Homo sapiens: one gene and its partners. The protein of the gene in region 3 purifies or fractionates together with the protein of the main gene of each other region. This does not show direct contact. Each region holds a gene or a part of one and is shown on either strand. Other genes may lie near its edges.

The links.
Region 1: the proteins of RPP30 (region 3) and RMP64 purify together in Homo sapiens (affinity purification with mass spectrometry; 4 studies listed by BioGRID and IntAct, with this or other methods). This does not show direct contact.
Region 2: the proteins of RPP30 (region 3) and RPP40 purify together in Homo sapiens (affinity purification with mass spectrometry; 4 studies listed by BioGRID and IntAct, with this or other methods). This does not show direct contact.

What each region holds. Positions count from the first base shown.
Region 1 is NC_000003.12:113,016,064-113,024,025, forward strand, and holds the start of RMP64 (nucleolus and neural progenitor protein), read right to left. Parts: upstream 3,609-7,962; 5' UTR 3,585-3,608; coding exon 3,479-3,584; exon of another isoform or gene 3,455-3,478; intron 3,347-3,454; exon of another isoform or gene 3,003-3,346; intron 1,540-3,002; coding exon 1,385-1,539; intron 1-1,384. UniProt on the Homo sapiens protein: May play a role in cortex development as part of the Notch signaling pathway. Downstream of Notch may repress the expression of proneural genes and inhibit neuronal differentiation thereby maintaining neural progenitors.
Region 2 is NC_000006.12:4,993,609-5,001,461, forward strand, and holds the end of RPP40 (ribonuclease P protein subunit p40), read right to left. Parts: intron 7,024-7,853; coding exon 6,955-7,023; intron 6,297-6,954; coding exon 6,201-6,296; intron 5,234-6,200; coding exon 5,108-5,233; intron 2,813-5,107; coding exon 2,614-2,812; intron 2,478-2,613; coding exon 2,343-2,477; intron 1,669-2,342; coding exon 1,470-1,668; 3' UTR 1,109-1,469; downstream 1-1,108. UniProt on the Homo sapiens protein: Component of ribonuclease P, a ribonucleoprotein complex that generates mature tRNA molecules by cleaving their 5'-ends. Also a component of the MRP ribonuclease complex, which cleaves pre-rRNA sequences.
Region 3 is NC_000010.11:90,888,257-90,896,288, forward strand, and holds part of RPP30 (ribonuclease P protein subunit p30), read left to right. Parts: intron 1-6,518; coding exon 6,519-6,635; intron 6,636-7,197; coding exon 7,198-7,227; intron 7,228-7,623; coding exon 7,624-7,661; intron 7,662-8,032. UniProt on the Homo sapiens protein: Component of ribonuclease P, a ribonucleoprotein complex that generates mature tRNA molecules by cleaving their 5'-ends. Also a component of the MRP ribonuclease complex, which cleaves pre-rRNA sequences.

The sequences.
Region 1 (7,962 bases), on a different chromosome or scaffold from region 3:
AGTGAGCATGCAGGTGTGTTGAGTCCAGGTTGGCTGGAATATAATCTATCTGAACGCAAGAGAGAAGCCCGAACTAAGAAGACTGAAGAGGCCAGATCACAGATCTCGTAAGCCAAACTAAGAAGTTTGGTCTTTACTCAGGACACAATGGAGAACGACTAAAAATCAAAGTTGTGTTTTCAGATGATTAACCTGGTTTTAATATTTAGAATATGCCAGAACTTAGGAAAAGCTGAAGGAGGAAACATCAGTTATGATAGTAAGACAACTAAAAGTTGACAAGGTCTAAGAAAGGAAAATGGCAGCCAGAACTGAAGAGGGGACCAGATGCAGAGGAAGTTTTGTCTTATGGACTGCCTGGATGGGAGAGCTACGTAAGAGAGAGAGACTAGAGAATGCCAAATTTTGATGACGGGGTGATTATTCACAACCCAGAAGCTAGAAGGAGAAATATATTCACTTTGAGGGTTAGCAAGCTTGCTTTTGGATCAAAAAGACTCCGAAAAAGATAAAAGCCACCCTAGAATGGAAAATTTAGGGAAAGACCATGGTCCCAGATCTTTCTTTGATGAAATCTTCACCCTGTTTGCTTTAAGTACTAGGGGTAGAAAACTAACCAGAAAGCATGCATCTATAAGGTTAGAGACTGTGTCTACCTTTTTCACTCCTCTATACACAGCACTAAGCAGAATGCCTGGCACACAGAAAGTTCAAAAACACTTGCAAGGTAGCCCTGTCACACAATGGATAGCCTTCTGAACTTCCAGAAAATACTTGCAGAATTAAGTGAATGAATGAATGAGCATATCAGGAAGCCAGCTTAAGAGAGGCTCTACTCTATGGTATAGCCCCTGAGCTGGAGGGCCCAATTTTGTCTTAAGCTCCAAACATTACATGAAACCAGTTTACACCACAACTTGCTATGTACCCATTTACTCTAACATACCACCAATTAGATTATGTACCCCATAATAAGTAGACAAGTTTTTTTAAAAATAATTTTAGCATTCTGATTATGCCCAGGGAACTGTTTCTTAATGTCCAACATTTTGTCTTGCTCAAATCACTTTATCTTTGAGCTGGGCAAAGGCACTGTTGTTATAGATTGTATATAATGAAGAAAATGTTTACTTGCCTATTAGAAACAAGACTGGGAAAGAATCTAAACATACTTCTTTTCTAACAAAAATTACTTTTTGAAATGCTGAAATGCTTTTAGGAAAAAAAAAGAAAGTGCACATGTAACTGTGGGCTATAGGCCTATAAAACACAAGTAATTTACTGAGATTTCCACGAGATTTCCATAAATAGCAATATAGTAAGTGGCAGTGTGATCTACATTTTCAAGTGAACAGGTTGGGTCTCACCTACCGGGCTTCCTCACCTGTTTGAGGGCCAAATGGGGTTTGTGGCGGCCCATTCTGTTGTGATTGCTGTAAAGGACTGCACATAACACATCTGTTTCTGCATCTAAGGTTTGGCTCTTCAGCGACAGTATGACGAGATGGCATTCTTTAATTACAGCTGCAATGCAAAGGTCTGAAGCAGAGACATCTAATAAGATTTAGTATGTATTTCTACAGTAAGTATATTATATTAAAAACACACTAAAAAAAGCATCTTTCCTTATTTGTTTTAAAGGAATCAAAAACTAATGTAATCAGTCTCAACTGTAAGAACGTAAGGATTCTAAGTATAAGAGAAGTTGGAAAATGGTAACAGATGATATAAAGTCCAGGAAATCATTAAGAGAACATCTGTAAAACAAGAAGCTGTATCTTTGCATTGCATTTTATCATGGTTTAATAATCTTTCATATGAATACTTTGCTGTCAGTCATTTGGTGTACACTTACGCCTCATGTGTACACTTAACCCCCACCTTGAAGGTAGGGCACATGTCACAACATGTGTAATAACTCTCTAACTCCCCATGTCGCTATGCCCGAAAGCAAGACAGAATGAATAAATTCACAGTCTTCAAAATCAAGGCTTCTGTGTTTGGATATCACTTTATGAGAGACACAAACATATTCAGAAAAGAAAAACCACCACAGTAACTGGAAATCGTATTATTTGATGAACACCGGGTGCTCATCAGCAGATGCTTCCTAGTCTGAAAATCTGTAGAAGTCCCTAAGATGTAGTTCATGTGTTATTTATGGCTCTAAAGGCAGCACTAGCATTCTAAATGGAAGTAAAGGCTGGTTGCTACCTAACAAGAATTTTCTTACTGTCCCAACAACTACCTGAAGACAGAATGGGCTGCCTCGGGGATGGGTAGTGAGTTGGTGAATTTCCCAGGCCTAATAGGAGTTGTTAAAGAATTTTTGAATAGAGAAAGAGGGAAGATTAATCTGTAAAGTGTGTAGGAAGGATAGATGGGATAATCTGTAAAGTGTGTAGGATGGATATATGGGAAAGGGGATGTGATGATCTAAGTCAAGCTTGTCCAACCCGCCTTATTTTGTTGTTCTGTTCTGTTTTGTTTTAGGCTTTTTGCAGCTTAAAGCCATGGTTTTTAGTTTGTCTCTAGTGAAAAGAGGGATGAGGAAAGGGCTTTACCAGCCCAACCGGAAACAAAGAACCCATGACTGTATTCTCTCCCTTGGGCCCCGGAGCTACGTATTTAATATTCATAACAGCTTCCATTTGAGTGTTCATTTACCATGCCAGGCAGTGTTCCAAATGCTTTCTCTACATTATCAACTCTTTCATCCCCCCAAACAGCCCTATGAGGAAGGTGCTTTTATCTCCATTTGAAAGTGAGATCAGTGAGGCACAGAAAGGTTCAATGACTCCTTCAAGCTCCAGCAAAGGGTAGAGCTAGTATTCAAACCCAAACAACCTGGCTCCTGCGCCAGGCTCCTACCTACTATATGCCCTTCACCCTAACAAATACCACCCATTTAGGTGGCAAAACACCGTCGTTTACAGCGCACTGTCTCCTAAATTACATCATTAGATATTCCCAACGCCCCTGTGAGGAGTAGGAGGACTAACTCCATTTCACAGATAAGCAGATAGAGGTCCGAAAAGATTGCAGTTTGAGTCCCAGTGCTTAGGTGACGTCCACCGCTCCTCGGGTACAGGAAAAAGAAGGAAAGGGGAAATGGACGGAAGGGTAAACAAGACTCCGAAGACCCGGGTGAGCAAGGGTTCCCAGGCAGCACTGTTCCCCGGCACCAGCTGAGTCCACCTCTCTCCGCCCCCTCAGCGCACGGCTGAGCCTTGGTCTTTCATCTCTCCAGCCAAGCCCTGGGTTAGCACAGCTGGTTCAATGAAGGAATGCGAAGCCAGAGGCCCTACAAGCTACACCAGCAAAGTGCTGGGACCGCTCGACCCCTACGTGCCCCGCGCCCCTTCCCAGCGTCCCCCGGGCCGGGAAGTCCCGGTACCACCCCCGCCCACATGCGCCGGCTGGGCCTGGCGGCCTCCCCCGGAAACGTTCCCCCATCCTCGCCCGGCGCCTCACTCACCAAGGGCCGCGCCGGGGTTCTGCACTGTCACTGCGCTGCGGTTCCCCGCCTTAGGGATTCTCACACGGTTCCACGGCTCCAGGCCCGGCGGCACCGCAGCCATCATGCGAGGCGGGGGGACTTACGAAAGGCGGAGCTACGCGAGAGCACGTCCAGCGACCGGAGGTGGGGCGATGGGACCCAGTCCGGGCCGGAAGGGAGCAGGGGGTGGGGCTCGGGCGGGGCCAGGAGCCCGGCGGGAGGCTGCCTTCATCGAGTAAACGCGTGGGACTGGGAAGGACCCAGTCATCTGTATATTGGTTACCAACACGTGGCCGCGTAGAATCATGGGGGAAAAAAGGCCCCATCCCAATACTAACCAACAGAATCTCTGAGAATGCGATGAGGAATCTGCGTTTTGTTTAAACTTAGCGCAGGGGATTCGGAAGCACAACCAAGTTTGGAACTGTTAAATACTTCTAGGCATTTTACAAATATGGAAAATGAGGCCCAGAATTGAGTTGGTGCTTTTACCCCCAACTCTGCCTCAGACATTAGGGGAAAAAGGAAGAAATGAAATGAAGAGGTTTGTGCAAGGTGTGGAATTTGTAGCGAAGAAGCAGTGATTTGCTTTGAGTGGTAAAGGAAGGCTCCTTTATGTCTTGAACCACAGCAAAACCGAGATCACATCAAAGAAACTTGGAAGACACCTGTCAGTCATTCCCACTTTTGTCAGTCTCCAAGACAAGATCATATTCCAAGCTCTAGTGATCCTTACCTCATTAATATCTTTCTAATAATTCATTTATCCTCAGCCATGCTAATGCCCCCTTAAGTTCTTAACACTCCCACAGTAACGTATTAGAAAAACAGTGAGTTTTGGAAACAGACTGCCAAGGTTCTAGTTCTAGCTTTGCTGTTTACTAGCTCGGTGATCTCAGGAAATTTACTTACCTCCTCCTCCAGACCTTAGTATCCCTGTGGGTAAAATGAAGATGATAATAATAGTATCAATCTCACAGACTTGTAAAATGCCAAGGCACTCCTGGCATACAAACAATGAACATTTACCATAGTTAATATTGTTGATGTTATTACTACTATTTCATGCAAGCAGTCTTACTTTATTGAAACACTTTCCATGCTCTTTCTGTGCGCCTTTACACATCTACCTACTCTACCTGGGTCATCCTCGGAAACACAATCTCCTTTCCTCAGCTCTGGGGTCGTCACTTGGGGTAATTCTTCCTAAACACCCCGTCCTCACTCCATAACTTGATACAGAGGCCCCTTTAATGTGTTACCACAGTGCCCTATGTTGGCCTATGTATTAGTTTTCTATTGCTGCTGTAACCAATTACGACAAACCTAATGGCTTGAAATAAGTAGAAGTTATTTTACATTTCTGGAGGTCAGAAGTCCAAAATTAATTTCAATGGACTGAAGTTGGCAGGGCTGGTTCCTTCCGGAATCTCTAGGGAAGAATTCATTTCCTTTCCTTTTCCAGCTTCTAGAGGCTGCCTTCATTCCTTGGCTCATTTCACTATCCTCCACCTTCATTGTCAGCATGACATTTTTCAGTCTCCTCCTCTTCCTCTGTCTCTCTCACCCTCCTGCCTGCCTCCCTCTTAAAAACACCCTTGTGATTACATTGAGCCCATCAAGATAATCAGGATAGTCACTCCATCTCAGAATCTTTAACTTAATCACATCTGTTTTAGAACTCCAAATTCAGGCTCATGTACCCGATGGGCAGCTGATGCCAAATATTGAGATACTGGTGCTTGGAGACAGAGAAATATTTATTCGATTTGACCAAAGTTAGAGGGCAAGAGAGCAAGATCTCTCAGATCCACAGTAACAAAAAAGAAGCAGGGAGTTTTTATGGAGCTAGAGAGTAATGGAGAGGGAGTTTCAAGGAATCCAAGGGAAAAGTCTGTGTTTCTTCCATTTCAGGTAACACCTTGTGCAGCCGTATGTACATGGCAGCTGGTTGCAATGTCCTTCCAGGAATTCATTCCTTCTGCAAACTATTCTTATGACCCTGAAGTTATCTCCTTCTGCTTGACAAAGAAACAGTACATCAGCAGTTTATAATTACATTGTGGGAACAAGGAATACTGGGCAAAAAGCGAGTGGTTAACATGTACAAGCAAGCAAGGGCCTGTTCAAAATTTTCATTATTTCATGCACACACACACACACACACACACACAAAAATGCTGGGGTGCTGAAATCTCAAGCAGCTGAAATCTCAAGGTTATATAGCTACAAAATCCCTTCTCAGTGCAAGGTAACATATTTACAGATTATGGAAATTAGCATGTGAACATCTTTGGGTGGGAGGTGGAGGGATCTTTATTCAGCCTACCACAGCCTCTCTCACAGAATTTACCTCGCTTTATTGTATTTCTTTGTTTACTTTCATGTCTATTTCTCCAATGGCATATGAACCTACTGAAAGCGAGAACTACCATTGACATAGCTAACTGGTCTTTCTATCTCAATGCTTAGTTCAGAGCCTGGCATATAGTAGGGCCTCAGTAGATATTTACTGGCTGTATATGAGGTTGGATGATGCTTGAATAGAGTCTTTTGAAGGATGAATAGGAACTCCCCAGGCAGTTAAAGGAAAAAGGATATTCCTACAGAGAGGTTTTAAGCAGCATGGGTTTGAAGAATCACTAGTCCTGAGTTGGTACTGCTGGGACGTGATTTGTGCTGAGGGGTGGAGCTGGGAATAGTGGTGTCAGTCAGATCATGGGAAGAATTTGGCTTTTTACCTGAAGACCAGTAGTTCAGAAACCTGGCTGATTATCAAAATTGCCTGGATAACTTAAAAATAGAGATTTTCAGGTCCCACTTGAAAATTCTTACTCATTAGTTCTGAGTAGGTCTGTTTTGAAAAGGTCTTTGTGATGGTACTCTAGGTTGACGTGTCCTTGCTATAGGTGATAAAGGAGTCACTCACTGAGTCTTAGGCAGAGCAATTTTTGTCAGCTTGCCTCAGAAGAAGAGCACCCTGGAGAACAGATTTGGGAGAGAAGAGGTTGGAAGTAAGGAGACCAGGCCCATCTGTTCTATTACAAAAGCTAAGGCCAGAAATGATGCAGACCCAAACCTTCAAGCATTTCTACTGGATATAGACAGTATGACTTATTTAGATGTCTAGCATGGGTGGAGAGTGTCCCTTATCTGAAATGCTTGGGACCAAAATTGTTTCAGATTTCCGGTTTTTTTTAGATTTTGGAATACTTGCAAATATACATGAGATATCTTGGGTATGGGACCCAAGTATAAACATGAAATGTATGTATGTTTCATATCTACCTTAAACACATGGCCTGAAGAAACTTTTATGTAATATTTTTAATAATTTTGTGCATGAAACAAAGTTTGTGTACATCTCAATCACCCATGTGGACAGTCTGTGGTTGTTTGGTGTCAACATCATTCCTGACTCTGAATTTATATGCTACTGTTTTTTTGTTTGTTTGTTTGTTTGTTTGTTTGTTTTTTGAGATAGAGTCTCACTCTGTTGCCCAGGCTGGAGTGCAGTGGCACGATCCCGGCTCACTGCAAGCTCCACCTCACAAGATCACACTATTCTCCTGTCTCAGCCTCCCGAGTAGCTGGGACTACAGGTGCCCACCACCATGTCTGGCTAATGTTTTTTTGTATTTTTAGTAGAGACGGGGTTTCACTGTGTTAGCCAGGATAGTCTCGATCTGCTGACCTTGTGATCTGCCCGCCTTGGCCTCCCAAAGTGCTGGGATTACAGGTGTGAGCCACCGCACCCAGCCTATATGCTGCTGTTAAGCAACCATTTTTTTCTCTTATTCACACATATGTGCTTAATAGTAAAAAAAATGATATACCATTAATACAGTGAAAATTAATGTGTTCAGGGTAACTTGTATCATCATGTCAGTACTCAAAAAGTTTGGCATTTTGGAGCACTTCAGATTTTGGATTTTCAGTTTAAAGATGCTCAACCTATTTACATATTTACATGTCTAGAATGATGATATGGTTTGGGTCTGTGTCCCTACCCAAATCTCATGTTGAATTATAACCCCCAATGTTGGAGGAGGGGCCTTGTGGGATGCAATTGGATAGTAGGGGCAGAAATCTCCCTTGCTGTTCTCATGATAGTGAGTTCTCAGGACATCTGGTTGTTTAAAAGTGTGTAGCACCTCCCTCTTTGCTCGCTTGCTCTCCTTCTCTGGCCATGTAAGATGTGCCTGCTTCCCCTTCACCTTCCTCCATGATTGTAAGTTTCCTGAGGCTTCCCCAGTTGTGCTTCCTGTACAGCCTGCAGAATTGTGAGTCAATTAAACTTCTTTTATTTATAAATTACCCAATCTCAGGTAGTTCTTTATAATAATGTGAGAATGGACTAATACAAATGACTTCCAGATTTTCACCTTAAGTTCGAAATATGACATTCAGAAGAAAAATAGATTTAGGGAGGTGGCAAGGGTGATAAGATAACTTTCGATATA
Region 2 (7,853 bases), on a different chromosome or scaffold from region 3:
CTTCTGCCAGTTACCTGTAAGGCAGTAAAATCCTGTTATCACTTGAAATTTCCCTCTTGAGATTTTTTAAGACTATCCAGGTGGTGCAAACAAGCCACCCTAAAAACTGCTGTTATATATAAATCCTGTGGTTATATATAGGCTCTCAAGTAAGATGTTTTCCCCCAGGACAGAAATCTTCCTTGCTGTTCACAGGGGTTGGGGGGATGGGTGAAGCAGATGGATTTATTCCTAGTTTACCCCTACATTGCATCTATCCTTTTGGAGTCTCACTTTATGAGGTCTCCTGTTAGTTTTCCTCCCTTGGGCAGGCCCTGAGCTTTGTGTGCTGTTCTGCAGCCCCTTCCCACCCCAGGCTATGAGAAGAAAACTTCAATTTGGCATTTGGCAGATGCACTAAGGCGGAAAAGTGGCGTCAGTACTCCACTTACTTCTTTGGGTTTCTGCTTCCATTTACAAAAAAAAAAATTTTTTTTTCCCTTTAAGAACTCTTATTTTGCAGCTCTTGTTTTTTACATTAAAAAAATGGTTCTTCAGACAAAAAACCAAACACCGCATGTTTTCACTCATAGGTGGGAATTGAACAATGAGAACACATGGACACAGGAAGGGGAACATCACACACCGGGGCCTGTTGTGGGGTGGGGGGAGGGGGGAGGGAGAGCATTAGGAGATATACCTAATGTTAAATGATGAGTTAATGGATGCAGCACACCAACATGGCACATGTATACATATGTAACTAACCTGCACGTTGTGCACATGTACCCTAAAACTTAAAGTATAATAAAAAAAAAATGGTTCTTCATATGTATTCTAAAGTTTTAGTTGTTTTCAACTGGTCCTTATCAGCCTTACTGCTGGAAATAAAATTCTTTCAACCTGTTCTGTAACGATTTACAGTATCCATTGATCCCTCTCTGATCCAGAGGCATTAGCGTGAGAACACACTTAGGAACTAGGCTGGCCTGAGATCAAGTCTCAGGTCCACTGCCACTATAACTTCGGTAGTGTATTTACACACTGTGCCTCAGTTTCCTCAAAGGGTTGGTGTGAGATTCTAACATGGTAATATATAAACAGCACTTACAACAGGGACTGGCCCTGGTAAGGATGAGATTTCTTTTTATTATCTGAAAAAGTTGTAATGAACAAAATATATCTCAACCAATGGAGTGAGATGGGGACCAATATCCCCGGTCCCTGGACATCCTGGCCCAGTGTACCACATAGTAACCCACAACCCTGTGCTTATGTTGACAGAGAGAAATCAACTATGAGCTATTCACTGGACAGCAGGCCTTGCTGCCATCACAGATGGGTCTCAGGTGCAGGGCAGGATGCCAGCAAATGCTGATCTGAGAAATGTCACCATCACACAAGCCTGAGTGGACACACAGACCTTTTACCATTAAGAAATCTGAAAGCAAGCGTAAATGTAAGTAAACACGATTTTTAATTTTTATTTTTTATGGTGGACAGTGATCATTTGCCCCAACAGCCATCTGAAGCCAATAGTCCTGATTATTAAAAATCACAAAGTTATATAAATGTTCTCCTCCTTTTCGAAAACCATGTTCATTTTTTTCCCAAGAAACAGGGCTGTCTGCAAAGCCTTGAACGGACAGTGTAACCCATGGAGCTAACTTCGGTTCATCAAAGTAGTGACTGAAAAAAAGGTAGTTGTTAAACAGAGTTTTAAAAGAGAGTTAGGAATGTCTGCATTTTAAAAAATTTATTCAGGATAAGTAGTATTTCTGATATTCTAATAAAGCTTAGATCTTAGCTTTAATTTTTGAAAATCAAGAGGTGTGTGATAAGTTCCTGATGTCACACTGTGAACTCCATAAGGATTAACTAATATACAACACATGAAACAAACCTCAGCTGTTCCCACCCTCATTCTGGGAGGTCTTTAAGACAAAAAGAACCCAAAACAAAAAACCCCACAGGCGTTTAAGGATCCTTTCCCTCCTATTAAGAGTACTGTTCTCAGAGTCTCAGTTAACTGAAACGTTGCAGGATAATTCACCAGATTTTTCATATCCAGCCTTCCTATCGAAGAAAGTCAAAGTACTAAACCAATAAATGTGAAAAAGGATGTTGGGCTTAAAAAGGAAAACCTTCAAGACTTAAATCTGACATTTCAAAAGGGAAGACTGAGAAGATATGCTTACTAAATAGGATTATACTCAATGTACGGTCTTTGCAATAGGCGATTTGAGTTCCTTTCAATGTACATTTTATTTATATACCACCTCCCAAAATGAAAAAATCTATACTATTCGACATACTGTTCTATAGAGCACTGATGAGCGATATAAAAGGTAAAGAGTTCTCACCAGAGATGTTCCAATAGGAGACAGATCTTCTCTGGAAGTATGAAGCCAGTGATTGTACACAAATAAGCTTTTGCCACCACTGTGCTTGGCTCAGGACAGCAATAGGTTGATATGAAATTATTAGGCTCATTATTTCTGTCACCAAAAAAATAAAAGAGAGAGAGATAACACATGTATATCCATCACATGATCACTTCCAAAGTATTAAACTCCTATTAAAAACAAGCAGCAGGCCAGAGCCCTGGAAGACACAGGGAGTTCAGATACCCACAGGTCGACATTACTGAAGACGGCGCCGAGCCAGTCGAAGAGCTCCAGAGCCCGGCAGGACACCTCTGGCGTTCCCTCCAGCTCGCTGCTCTGCAGCACTGGGCACTGGAGATCTCTCAACGTGCTCAGTGCTACTTTTGGCTGATGCTCCTGAATTTGGTACTTGGAAAAATATGACATCATTGTCGATTCTTCTGAACCTTAAAAACACACCACACAAGGCCATTTGAATCCATCTGACCATCGTAAGCAAGTTTAGTGAATACCTGAACCCACCCATTCCCATCTGAGCGGTAAGATTGAGTAAGATGGAAGCTGTGCAGAGCTGCATTCAAATTAAAATCATTTAAAGCTGCTTTCAGCTCCTTTTGCTCAAGTTCTGTAAACGTTCATCGTTTTTCACACTTTTCCTGGAAAAGCACAACAGTTTCTGATCAGACCCAAACTAGTTTCACTGTTTGTGCTAATAAAAAAATTTCAACTTCACACTTAAAACCAAAAGCATTCCTGATGTATGAATAATATTAGTGAACTCCAGAGAGAAGGAGCTTATCTGCACAACCTCTATTAAAGAAAAAGAAGAGAAACTGAATGGTGATTGAACCTCATCCCAGCTTGACTTTGAAAACCCAATAAAATCCAGCGTATCTTTTCAGGGATGTTTGTGTAGCCAACGGCCTTGGAAGACAGAGATAGTACTCCCTCCACGGCAAAGGGCAGGCTTGCTTACTGTCCAGTATAATAGAAATAATGTCACCCTCCCTCTCTCCGGGCAGATATCAGCAGGCTTACTGTCCCTTACAAAGGACTGGAGTTCTTAAACTCCAGGTTCCTCTCCTGTAATGCAACCTACTGCATGTGCCAGCATCGCTTGGTGTCACTCTGGAAATGGGACTTGGTGAACTGGTGCAAATGGTGATATTCGGTGTGATGGTTAATTTTAGGTGTCAACCTGACTGGATGAAGGGTCATCTAGATGGCTGGTAAAGCATTATTTCTAGGTGTGTCTGTGAGGGTGTTTCTGGAGGAGACTGGCAGGTGAGTGGGTAAACTGAGTGGGAAGATCTGCCCTCACTGTGGGTGGCACCATCTACCCGGCTAGGGCCCCAGGTAGAACAAAACGTCAGAGGAACAGTGAATTCGCTGTCCCTTGGAGCTGGGACTCCCTTCTTCCCCTGCCCTTGGACAGCAGAACTCCAGGTTCTCTAGCCTTTGGACTCTGGGGCTTGCACCAGCAGATCCACAGGTTGTCAGGCTTTGGCCTTGGACTGAGAATTATACCATCTTCTTTCCTGATTCTCAGGCCTTCATATTTGGACTGAGCCAGGCTACCAGCATCCCTGGGTCTCCCACTTGCAGACAGCCTGTCGTGGGACTCCTCAGCCTCCATAACTGCATGATCAATTTCCCTAATAAATCTCCTCTCATCCATCCATCCATCCATCCATCCATCCTATTGGTCCTTTCTCTCTGGAGAACCCTGACTAATACATTTTGGCTACTACCATTCCTCTGAGGAATTAAGTCCTGTGTCTCTGACCCAGGGCTTATGTGTCTTCTGCCAGCATCCCTGAGACTGTAGCAGGCTACCTAGTTAGCCTGCAAGTATGAGGAAATCTCAGAACTTTCACAGTCCTGACAAATCCTTAAAATAGTTAGGAGCTTTAGGAATAGGGAGCTATCCAGAATCCAACGTCTGGATGATCTGCATAGAAGACTTCACGCAACTGAAACTTCAATAAGCCTTTCTGCCCTCTTTTCTATCTACCATATATGGAAGGAGAGGCACCGAAGGCCAGACCTAGGACTCATGGGAGCAACTTGGAGCACCCAGTGACGAGACACTTCCCATGAGGAGCAGACAGATGGGGCTATTTCTAAAACAGACCACCATGCTTCCTATCCTCCAAAAGAGAGTACTACACCATAATTCCTGATGACTTGATCCATTATTATCTGGGTCAAAGATACACTTCTAAAAGGAGCAACATACATGGCCGTTTTAGGCAGATTACGCTGTGTGGTGAATAGCAAACTTTGAACTAAATTTAGTGTCCTAATCAATTAAAAGTTAGAATAAATTCATCTGACATTTAATGGTAGGCCTGAGTCAGTACCCTGTGATAATAAATAAGCAGATTGTGTATATAATTGGTGCTACTTAAAAATATTATAGTCAAGGCTGTTCAAGGTAAGCTGGAGAGAGGAAAGGGGAGAAATAGATAAAATTTAGCTGCTCTGAAGCCACTCTCAAGATCTCTGGATCTACATATAACCCAAAGAGACGCAGGCAGAAAGGCCTGCGTGCCTACATGATCCTGAACTATGGTTTTCAGAGATGTCAGAAGGGCTAGTTTCCTTAATAATATTTTTATATATACGTATAGAATATTCCTTGACTAAAGAGTGAATCACCATTCAATCCTCCATTACTCCTCTTTAATTAACAATTACTTTCAAAATCACTGTATCATTACATAATTTATTCCTCATACCTGTTTTATGCCAAGCCAAAAGAAAATCAAATTTCAATGGCTTCTTTTCTTTGAAAGACCAAGATATTCTTTCATACTTCTTAGAATCCAAGTTTAAGGATAATTCCATCAAATCAATGGAAACAACTTTAAAAATGAAAAAAAGAACATATATTTCATTCATATACGTACAGCTTCTACCATGGAAAAAGTGTTACATTTTTAAAAACTAGAATTTTGGGAAATTTTATGGATAGTAAAATTATTTTATTCTTCTTCCACTCCCTTTGGTTTGCCAAATAAATAAGATCCCTTTGGTGGGCACTTCTAACCTTGAGAGCTAATAAAAACAGACATTTTCAATTTATATGTTTCCTAGGTCAAAGACCAAGGGCAGAGGACCTTGAGAGGTCAGGTTTAATCTACTTATGGATGTGGCGGCCTTAGCTATTGATGTTCGAGCCAGACGCTGTCAGCAAAACATCTCTTCACTCATGGGTGAATTTCTACTAGTAATCATAAAGACTTGGGGAAACCAAAGGAAATTCTTTATTAAGAATAAGTTGTAGACTCCTATCTTGGGTTCAGTACTTGGAATTTTTTTTTTTTTTTTTTTTTTTTTTGAGATGGACTCTCACTCTGTCGCCAGGCTGAAGTGCAGTGGTGCGATCTTGGCTCACTGCAAACTCCCCCTCCCGGGTTCAAGCAATTCTCCTGCCTCAGCCTCCTGAGTAGCTGGGACTACAGGCATGCGCCACCACGCCCAGCTAATTTTTGCATTTTTAGCAGAGATGGGGTTTCGCCATGTTGGTCACAATGGTCTCAATCTCTTGACCTCATGATCCGCCCGCCTTGGCCTGCCAAGGTTTAACCCGAAACATATATATTTAATTGACCAGTCCAAGTCTACAATCTTTATTAAATGCATCTACAGCTGAAAAGAAATGAACTTAAAAGCATCATCCTATCCTCTGTGAAGCTCGAGTCAGAAGTTTGACAGATTTTTTTTAAAAGGCCACATTTTTTTGAACAAAGAGATTAGAGGCAATTCAAACATTTAAATTTAAATTGCCACAAGAAGATTAGAAACAGATGGAACACACATGATACTTACTAAATTTCATAATTTTTCTGCCAGAAAACTGAGATGGATGACCCTGAAGTCCAGTTTCTTCATAAGTGTCTTTATCCAGTGACAAAATTAATTTCCCTATAAATCAAATAATAACTCCCATAAGATACCAAAACTAGAACTTACGTTGTCTGACTAAAAGAAAGCAAGGCAAATTGAGCAGTTAGATATCAATGTAACAAACTGCATACAAGGATCTTATTTATATCACAAGAATATTATTTATGTGTATACATGTCTTGTAACAGATATTATTTATACATTATACATCCAAGGATATTATTTATAATAGTGAAATTTAAAATAATCTGAATTTCTACTAAAGATGAAATAAATAAGTCATGGTATACTCATTCTTTTGAATATCTTCTTTTTTTTTTTCAGACAATCTCATTCTGTCTCCCAGGCTGGAGCGCAGTGGCGCAATCTTGGCTCACTGCAACCTCCGCCTCCCAGGTTCAAAGCGATTCTCCTGCCTCAGCCTCCCAAGGAGCTGGGACTACAGGCATGAGCCACCACGCCGGCTAATTTTTGTATTTTTAGTAGAGGCAGGGTTTCACCATGTTGGCCAGGCTGGTCTCGAACTCCTGACCTCAGGTGATACACCTGCTTTGGCCTCCCAAAGTGCAGGGATTACAGGCGTGAGCCACCGTGCCCAGCTGACTTTTTTTTTTTTTTTTTTACAGTATGCATTTTTTTTTAACAATTAAAGAAAGATGAAAAAATAAAGTGTTACCATTTGGTAGCAGGGCAACAGTATTATCTTCATCAATATGTGTATTGTATGTTAGTGCATAGCAAGAACCTGGAAGAGAAAGTACAGAGGAAAAATTTAAAACAAGAAATTACACCTGCAAGATGTTAGTGGATTATTTTTACAAGATAACCAGTCTTCCGGGTCATTAAAGGTCAGTTTCTACCCCTGCTCCAGCTCACTCAATAAACCAAACATCTGCTAAGGGTAAGCTGCAGCATGCAGAAGACCAAGCATGCAGAAGACCAAGCATGCAGAAGACCAAGCATGCAGAAGACCAAGCATGCAGAAGACAAAGCTTGCAGAAGACCAAGCATGCAGAAGACCAAGCATGCAGAAGACCAAGCATGCAGAAGAACAAGCATGCAGAAGACCAAGCATGCAGAAGACCAAGCATGCAGAAGACCAAGCTTGCAGAAGACCAAGCTCCAGCTAGTTCACTCCCTGACCAACAGCCTATTTGTGCAAGTTTACTATCATCAAGCAAAAAACTGACTCAGAACGGAACGTGACCTTTGGGGATGCGCGGAGAGGGGTCCAAAGTAGAATTCTAGATAAACATACACCTCTCAGAGACAGAGTTCCAGGTTAAGATTCAAAAGCTACCCAACCTCTCCAAGCCTCAGTTTCCTCACTGTTAAATGAGGATCATAGGCTTGCTTCATAAAGTTGTTGCAAGGGTTAAATTTGGTAAGACATTTAACAGTGCCTGCTACAGCCATTGTCCACGTAATTCACAGAGTGGTGTCAGGCCTTGAAATAGATGAAAGGAATAACGGTGATGAGACCAGACAAGATGCCCAGCTCATAAGTCGCCCCAGCAGTGTCAGAATGAGAGGAGCTACTGGTAACTAGAGTTCTTCATATCTTCACTGGAGAGG
Region 3 (8,032 bases):
CTGTGACCTTTGATGGGAGGAGCTAGCATGTGATGTTAAGGCCAAGTCCATGGAATGGACAGCAATGCACAACAGATAATTCCTCATGTCTCACGACAGTGGTAAGATTCCCAGTGGCTGCTTTGGTGAGAGCTTTTAATTGGGGTTCTTAGGAACTTGTATTATTATTTAAACCAGAGTGTGAGCTCCTAGAGAACACCGGCTGTCATGGTCCTTTTTTAAGTACTCCACTATCTTGCGTATAATGAGTCCTCCTTACAGTTTGTTGAGTCAATAAGTACATGTTGAACTTAGCATATCAGGGTACAGCATAGGGGACCTGGCCAAATTCTGCTCGTTGTTAGTCACCAGCTGGATGTCCACATTCATCAGGAAGTATATGCCGTGAGGGAAGTGGGGCAGTGGGGCAACATGAGGAGGACAGTGGCACTCAAGACAGTTGACACCAGGACACCCCACCCCCTGATTCCATTGGGAAGTTCAGGAAAGCTCCTTTCGTTTGATGGGCATTTTTCGCTTAATTCCTACATTTTTCAATTTAAGAATTCTGAAAAGTAAAAAATTCTGTCAAGTGAGAGGGATATGCAGTTTAACATGGTGTCTGCTTTAAAAAAAATCTGGTGTGAACATTTTGCATATGTTGTTTAATAAAAACTAGATGATGGAGTGGAAAGAAAGGCTGCACAAGATTATTTTTAGTCTTCATCTAGTAGAAGAGTAGGCTGCACTGTGAATTGGTCAGGAAGCAGAAGAGTCCCTGTTAATTTATTCACCTATTTTTTATTAAAGAGAGAAAGTTGGAAACATACAGGTGTCTAGCTTGTTGTTCAGAGTAAATAATAGTTGTGGCATAGGTATGTATGTATTATTTGTAACATAATATCCAGTCTGGCTGTGGAGCTGTTTGTCTACATAAAGTATGGAAATGTATACATTGTGAGAGCACAGTCTTGGTCCTTGCATGTTCCCTTGGCTTTGAGTGTAAACTTGTTTTTGGCCTTGAGAAGTTCATAGATTGGCTTTAAAAGGATCACTTTATAAGGATTACTTTTTTTTTTTTTTTTTTTTTTGAGACAGAGTCTCGCTCTGTCCACCCACGCTGGAGTGCAGTGGTGTGATCTCGGCTCACTGCAGCCTCCGCCTCCTCAGTTCAAGCAATTCTCCTGTCTCAGCCTCCCAAGTAGCTGGGATTACAGACATCCGCCACCACAGCTGGCTAATTTTTTTTTTATTTTTAATAGAGTTGGGGTTTCATCATGTTGGCCAGGCTGGTTTTGAACTCCTGACCTCAAGTGATCCACCCGCCTCGGCCAGGATACTTTAAATTAAGCACAGATCTTAATTTTGTCACGATGTGGGCCCTTTTCTTTGGTTGTGGTGAAAAGCAGTATTAAGAAAGGTAAATCATTCATCTTTTACCAATAGGCCAGATGCCATGTGAGAATCATCAGCTTGGAAGGTTGGGATTGTGAAGGAGGGCCCAGGAGCTCTATAGCATACCAAACACTCCATTTGTGTACTTTGCAGCTCTTTTCCCTTTTGTCATCTTCACTGTATGCTTAGGGCACCATAATTTCAATTATGCAATTTCCTCTAAAATCTCCCACAAACCTCTTCTGGAGTCTAAGTAACTTGTCATCGCATTTCTGTCATGTGATAGATGTGTTTCTAAAAAATTGGATTCCACTCCTTTTCTTGAATAATCACATGACTTCAGATTATTTAGCATTTTATGACATAAGCAGTTTGATACCTGCTTTGGCCCAGCAGTTTTGGGATGGGGTAGATGTTAATTATCTCCATATGCAGGTAATACAGTAGAATCTTAGGTAGTTCATGGTTCACACAGTTAAATGACTCTCTCAAGGGGTTGACAAGGGATTTGTACTCAAGCTTTGATTCCAAATCTGCTGTTATTTCCTACTGGGAAATGCTTTTTAAAGTTACTTTACAGCAGAACTCTTTGTTAAGCACAGAGTAATTTCATATTTTAAAACATGAGCTTTATGAATTCAGGTTGTGAGAAGAAGGATGTTCTTAAAACAGCACGTATCTCTTTACTTTCCCTTTGATTTTTTTACAATGTTATTTCCATTTCAATGTTATTGTCACTTAACAATGACTTCAAGCTTATTGAGTTATTTTAAGGGATCTTATATGTTTTACACTCTCTCTGATGTTTTCCCCTCAGTCCTTCCTTTAACCCTAATCCATTTCTGTCTTCGTGGTCCGATTACTCCCCACTGAGAGATGTTTAGTAAGTAGTATCTAAACAGTGAGGTAGTTCCATGAATCATGCTATAAATACTTGATTTGGATGTGAGTGTTCTGTAAACTTTGTTTTATCACACATGAATCTAATGTGTTAAGTACTGTGTCCATTCAGTGCCAGCAAATTGTGCCAGTATTAAAAATTTCTGTGGAAAAAAAAAATGCAAACAACACCAGAAACAAGGTTAAAAGACAGATGACAAACTGATGGAAAATTTTCACTCATGTCATAGACAAAATGCTTATTCCCTTAACACATAAAGACCAAAGAGTGCCTAGAAATTAATAAGTTAAAAAAAAAGATGAACAATACCAAAAAATGGATTAAGAATATGAAAAAGGCATTTCACAGTAAAGGAAATGCAAACAGGCCTTAGACATATGAAAAGATGATTAAATTTATCATAGTAAGAGATTTCACATTAAAATCACCTGTGTGATTAGAGATACACTCTGTTGTAAGGCTGCAGGAAAGCAGACATTCTCATATTTTGCTCGTAACTGTGTAAATGAGAACAGTCCCTATGCGGAGAGTGGGTAATTTGGCAACAACTATTCAAATTACAAATACGTTTACTGATTTAAACAACAGTTTTAAACTGTATGATCTCACAGTTCTGAAGCCTGCAAGTCTGAAATCAAGGTGTCAGCATGGTCTTGTTCCCTCTGAAATCTATAGGACCACCTTCCTTGCCTCTTTTTAGCTTTTGGTGATTTTCTGGCAATCTTTGGTAATCCTGGGCTTGCAGCTACGTAACTCCAGTCTCTGCCTTTGTCTTCAGTGTGTTCTCCCTGTTTGTCTCTATGTCTTCACATGGCCATCGTCTCATAAGACACCAGTCATATTGGATTAGGGGCCTACCCTATTCCAATCTGACTTCATCTTAACTAATTACATCTACAGTGACCCTATTTCCAAATATAAGATTACATTCTGAGGTACTGAGGTTTAGGGCTTCATTGTATCTTTTGTGGATGAGGACGCAATTCAACCCATTATGCCTAGCAATCCCACTTTAGTGTTATTCTACAGATACACTGAAACCACCCAAAGGCTCTCAGTAGAGGTTTGGTTAAATACATGCTATACCTCTACAATATGATACTCTACAACTGTAAAACAGAGGAAGTTATGAGCTGACTTGGAAGAGCTTTCATGTCAGGACAACAATGCAGCAGACTACCTTTTGGATAGGAAAGAAAAATAGTATCTCTTCGTATTTGCTTATAGTTGTATGAAGAAACTCTGGAAGAAGACACAAGAAATTAATAAAAGTGATTATTGGAGGAAGGGATAGGGCAGATAGGATTGGAGATGCAAGTAGTACTTTTTATTGTTTTCTTATGTTGCTTTGTGAGTCATGTGGACAAATTACCTGTCTTAAACACTGAAAGGGTTTCATTCATTTGAATTGAATAAAGAACTAATTTTTATGAAATTAACAGGGAATCAGTATATTGTCCCAGTAATCAGCTCCTTACTTTCTTCTCGTCTTTCTCTAAGGCTTTGCTTAATACTTGGAATTTTAGTACCAATGTATCTTGATTCAACTGTCACACACCTGTCCTTAGTAGCATCTTTATGACCATTATTTTTCATTAGTAAAGAAATGTGATCATCCACCCATGCCAGAACCTTTGGTCAGACATGAGAACAAAAGCTAATCAGGCAGGCACTGTTAGGAAGAGGCTGTTAGGAACAATCATTTGATGAGCTTTAGGCAATTTGCATCAAAATGGTCTTACAGCAAGATCCCAGGTAATGAGTCTGTATTTTATCCATCTAAAAATTTAAAATAAGATGCTATGAAAGAAATATTCACAACCTTCAATAGCACATTATTTTTAATTTTTCTTTTTCAAGAATTCCTATAGCAGTTTTAAAGTGAACTTGATTAATGTACCAAGATGAAAATCAGAACTTTTTCCTTAAAAAATAATTATGCTGATAATATCCTTTTTTTCTCCCCTCCCCCCGCAAAAGTTGTTTTTATTTTGATTTGGTACCCACAAGGGTCTAGAAATTTAGATTCAGTCAATTAGGAATATTTCGAGATCTAAGCATCCAACTCTATATATCATTCACCTCTTTCATTTATTTCCCCTCTTCATCATCCTGTTGCCTTGTATTATCGTTCCACAACTAGAAGGATAAGGAAAAGAAATACAGGTCAGCCTCTTCAGCTAATTAGTAGTTTTGGTAAAATATATAGCCAAGGAGATGGCTGATAATATGGCTAAAAGGGATGTTTTTACTTATCTGTGGTTTTTGGTTAGCCAGGTGCACCGAGGTTCCTTTGATGATGGATCATCTATAATGAACAACGTTATCACAGGACATCTTCTCCATAAGCTGCTATTTATTCACTCAAAATATAAATATATTATACACCTTTTATGTAAAAGGCAGTCTAGCTCTCAAGAAGTGTGCAAGCTTGGCAGAGCCAATGAGATACACGTTCAACTAGGACAGAAATACTATCTTAACAAATGTCATTCCCAGAAATAATCAACACAGGTGAAAGAATTAGAGATGGGGAAAAGTCAAAAAATGAGAGAGGGAAAGGTTGCAGTGTGGAAAATAGCATTTAAATTCTAACCAAACTAGAATCAGACATATAGGAAAATCTAAAATAAAATCTGGGAGCCTTGAAGCCGGAGGAAGAATTAAGGAAATCTGTGTTCGGGAGGGAAAAGCAGAAGGGGCCTTCAAGTACAACTGAATTAAATCAAGATGGACTGCCAGTTCTAGAAAAAGACAAGTTTCTCCATTCCCCGTAAATGCTCAGGAGTAAACCCCAGTAGTCACAGCTGGGCCAGTCCCAACTTATACTCTGGGCAATCGAAACTCATTTGCCAAGCAGAGACTTGGACCATACTGCCTAGAACATGCCTACCATTCTTTCTTTATTCTTTTGAAAGAGTACTGCCACTCAAGTGACTTTTGCAATTGAGAGTCTGATTATCATCTCTATGCTGAAAATCCTTCAGATGTTTTCTCCATTAGGAATAATCCTCATCACCAGCTCTAAAGGCCTGCACAGTTGGCCCTTCCCATCCTCTTTAGCCTGTCTTCCTCATTATTTTTCTCCAGCATTTGACCTTCCCTACGTGCTGCCATGCTGCAACCTTGAAGACTTTTGCATGCTCTGACCTCCCTCTGAAAGTGCACCTTCCTCTACTATTTAACTGCTTAATTTCTTCCTCAACCCTAAACTTCTCCTTGATAGCACTTAACACAGTTGAAGTTTTGTATTTTTGTGTGGTTATTGATCATCTCCCCCACTAAAATGTAAGCTTTTAGAAGGGAGAAACCATCTCAGCTTTTGCACGTAGTGGGCTTAAAACATCTTTTGTGAATGGATGCAGACATTTAGGTGCTCATTAGGAAAGCTGAACAGTATGGTGGTTAATTTCAATATCATTTCCACTCATCTACTTACCTGTGGATCCCTCTGTAGTAAGAGTACATTAAATAAAGAAGTTTCTGTTTCTCATGAAAAAAGCCAAGCTTGTATGGTGAGCTGGGCAAAATCTTCAAGGGCACTTCCATCTTTTTTGCTGTGCGGCTATAAGCCCAGTGAAAAATCAGGGGCTTTATTACTAAAGAAAAAGGAGAGGACAGATATCTGGGCAATTTGCAGGCTTTGCAGTAATGCTTTATAAAGGTATTGTAGTAAGGATTAAATATTATATATAAGACTCTCTTAGCATATAGTCAGCACTCAATTAACTATGGCTGTTATTCTCTCTTCAACATATAGAGAATAAATTACTTACCTGAAAGACCTTCCTGCCCTTGGTTCTTTGGGCTTTTTTCAGCTCTTCATTTCTTTGTCTCTTTGTGCATTCATAGGTCAGATTACTTGGTTTACTATGTTTGTATACAGTTTACTGTAAATGTAGGGAGTACATTTCTGTTTTCCTTTTGATAGTTCATGGAGTAGTAGCCCCTCTCTCACGCCATTGGGACTTTGTTCTTCTTAGCCTCTTCATAATTCCTGTTTATGTAAAGTCAGCTTCCCCACAGCCAAGTTAAACTCTCTTAATCAAGTAGAGCCACGGATTTATTTTCTTCTCCTTGTGGGTGGTGCCATTTGAGTGTTGATCTGTCTTTCATAAAGCTGTACCTTGACATGTAAGGGGTCAGTAGTAGGGAGTGAGGAGGGATGTGAAGAGAGAATCAGTGAAAATGAAGTAGGCCAGTGCATGCTTATCTCTGACAGTTCTCTTTATTTCCTGTGAAGGCGATTGACCGAGGCCTGGCTTTTGAACTTGTCTATAGCCCTGCTATCAAAGACTCCACAATGAGAAGGTATACAATTTCCAGTGCCCTCAATTTGATGCAAATCTGCAAAGGAAAGGTATGGTTCTATAATTTTAGGATGTTTTTCGCATCTGGCAGTTTATTATTAGTAGTACACTGGAATTGTCAAACTGACTCCTTTTCCTTAAAGCAGAATGTTCTCATAGCATAGGAACAAATTCTGCCATTTCAGTGAGCTCTGCAAATTTTAAGGGAAAGAAAAATACCAAGGGAAGAATAATGTAAGGGAGAAAAAGATGTGTTGGAAGCCATATCTTTTGATAAAAATTTGCAATTTACATACTGTGAAAGAAAAGTCTAGAATAACAATGGTCCTCACTGAGTTGAATTAAGATATGTGACCTTTTCATCTTGTTTTTTAAACTTAATTCACCTTTACTAAGATCTGTTAGGAAAACATATTTTGTTTTTTATTACAGATTGCCTTTAGTTTGACATGAAGTCTTTTCATTTTTTTCACCTTAATTATTTACCTTATCTTTAAAAGAAGTTGGTATTTGAGCCTTAAATGTTAAAATATGATTACTGGCTATTTATATTATGAAACTCCTTTTTTTACATTTATCTAAGATTAATATTAGTCACTTTCTATTTTGTAGAATGTAATTATATCTAGTGCTGCAGAAAGGGTAAGTCTAGCATGAAGTACTTTGTTTTCATCTTTCAGGTTATAAAACTTTTCAGTTTCTAGGGGATAAATTAAAATAGTAAATGAATATTTGTTGCATTTTTTTCTATTTTAACTGCATTTGCTCATTGTAATTGCTAAATAGTAAAATTTATCCCCACTTTCTTTAGGCTTCAACTTTTGTTTATATAATCAGTTTTTCTTTTATACTGTTACAAAATGCCTTTCAAGCTTCTCTTATATTTTCAAAAGCTATGAAACCCATCAAAATTATAAGGACTTAAATTTATGTAATTTTTTTATTTTTGGATACTTAAATTTTCTATTAATTTGCTATAAGTCATTGAAATGTTATAAATAATTTTCTCATATCTACTCTTTGTTCATTTTATTTCAGCCTTTAGAAATAAGAGGGCCATATGACGTGGCAAATCTGTATCCTTTTCTGAGTAAAAAGTTGTTGACATTGTCTTTCAGGAAATTTTGAATTTGAAGTCGTATTATAGTTGAACATGTATTTTTCTCAACCTTTTACTGTAAGTTTACCAATTAATAACTTCAAAAATAAATTATATAACATTATAGAGAGCTTTATGCTTCTGTTTTTTAATTAATCATGAGATAGAAAAGAGGGAATGAGGGACTTCATATGATAAAAGCTTAGAGTTAAATGAGTCTTTTCTCAGATGCATGTTCCAGTTGGACTAAGAACTGCTGTTGAATTAATTAGCCTCTCAAGATGACCAGGTTAGCTGGCACTTTCTGTTATGTTTGTGTTAGTCTCGTGTCCTTGGGTGACTCTGGGT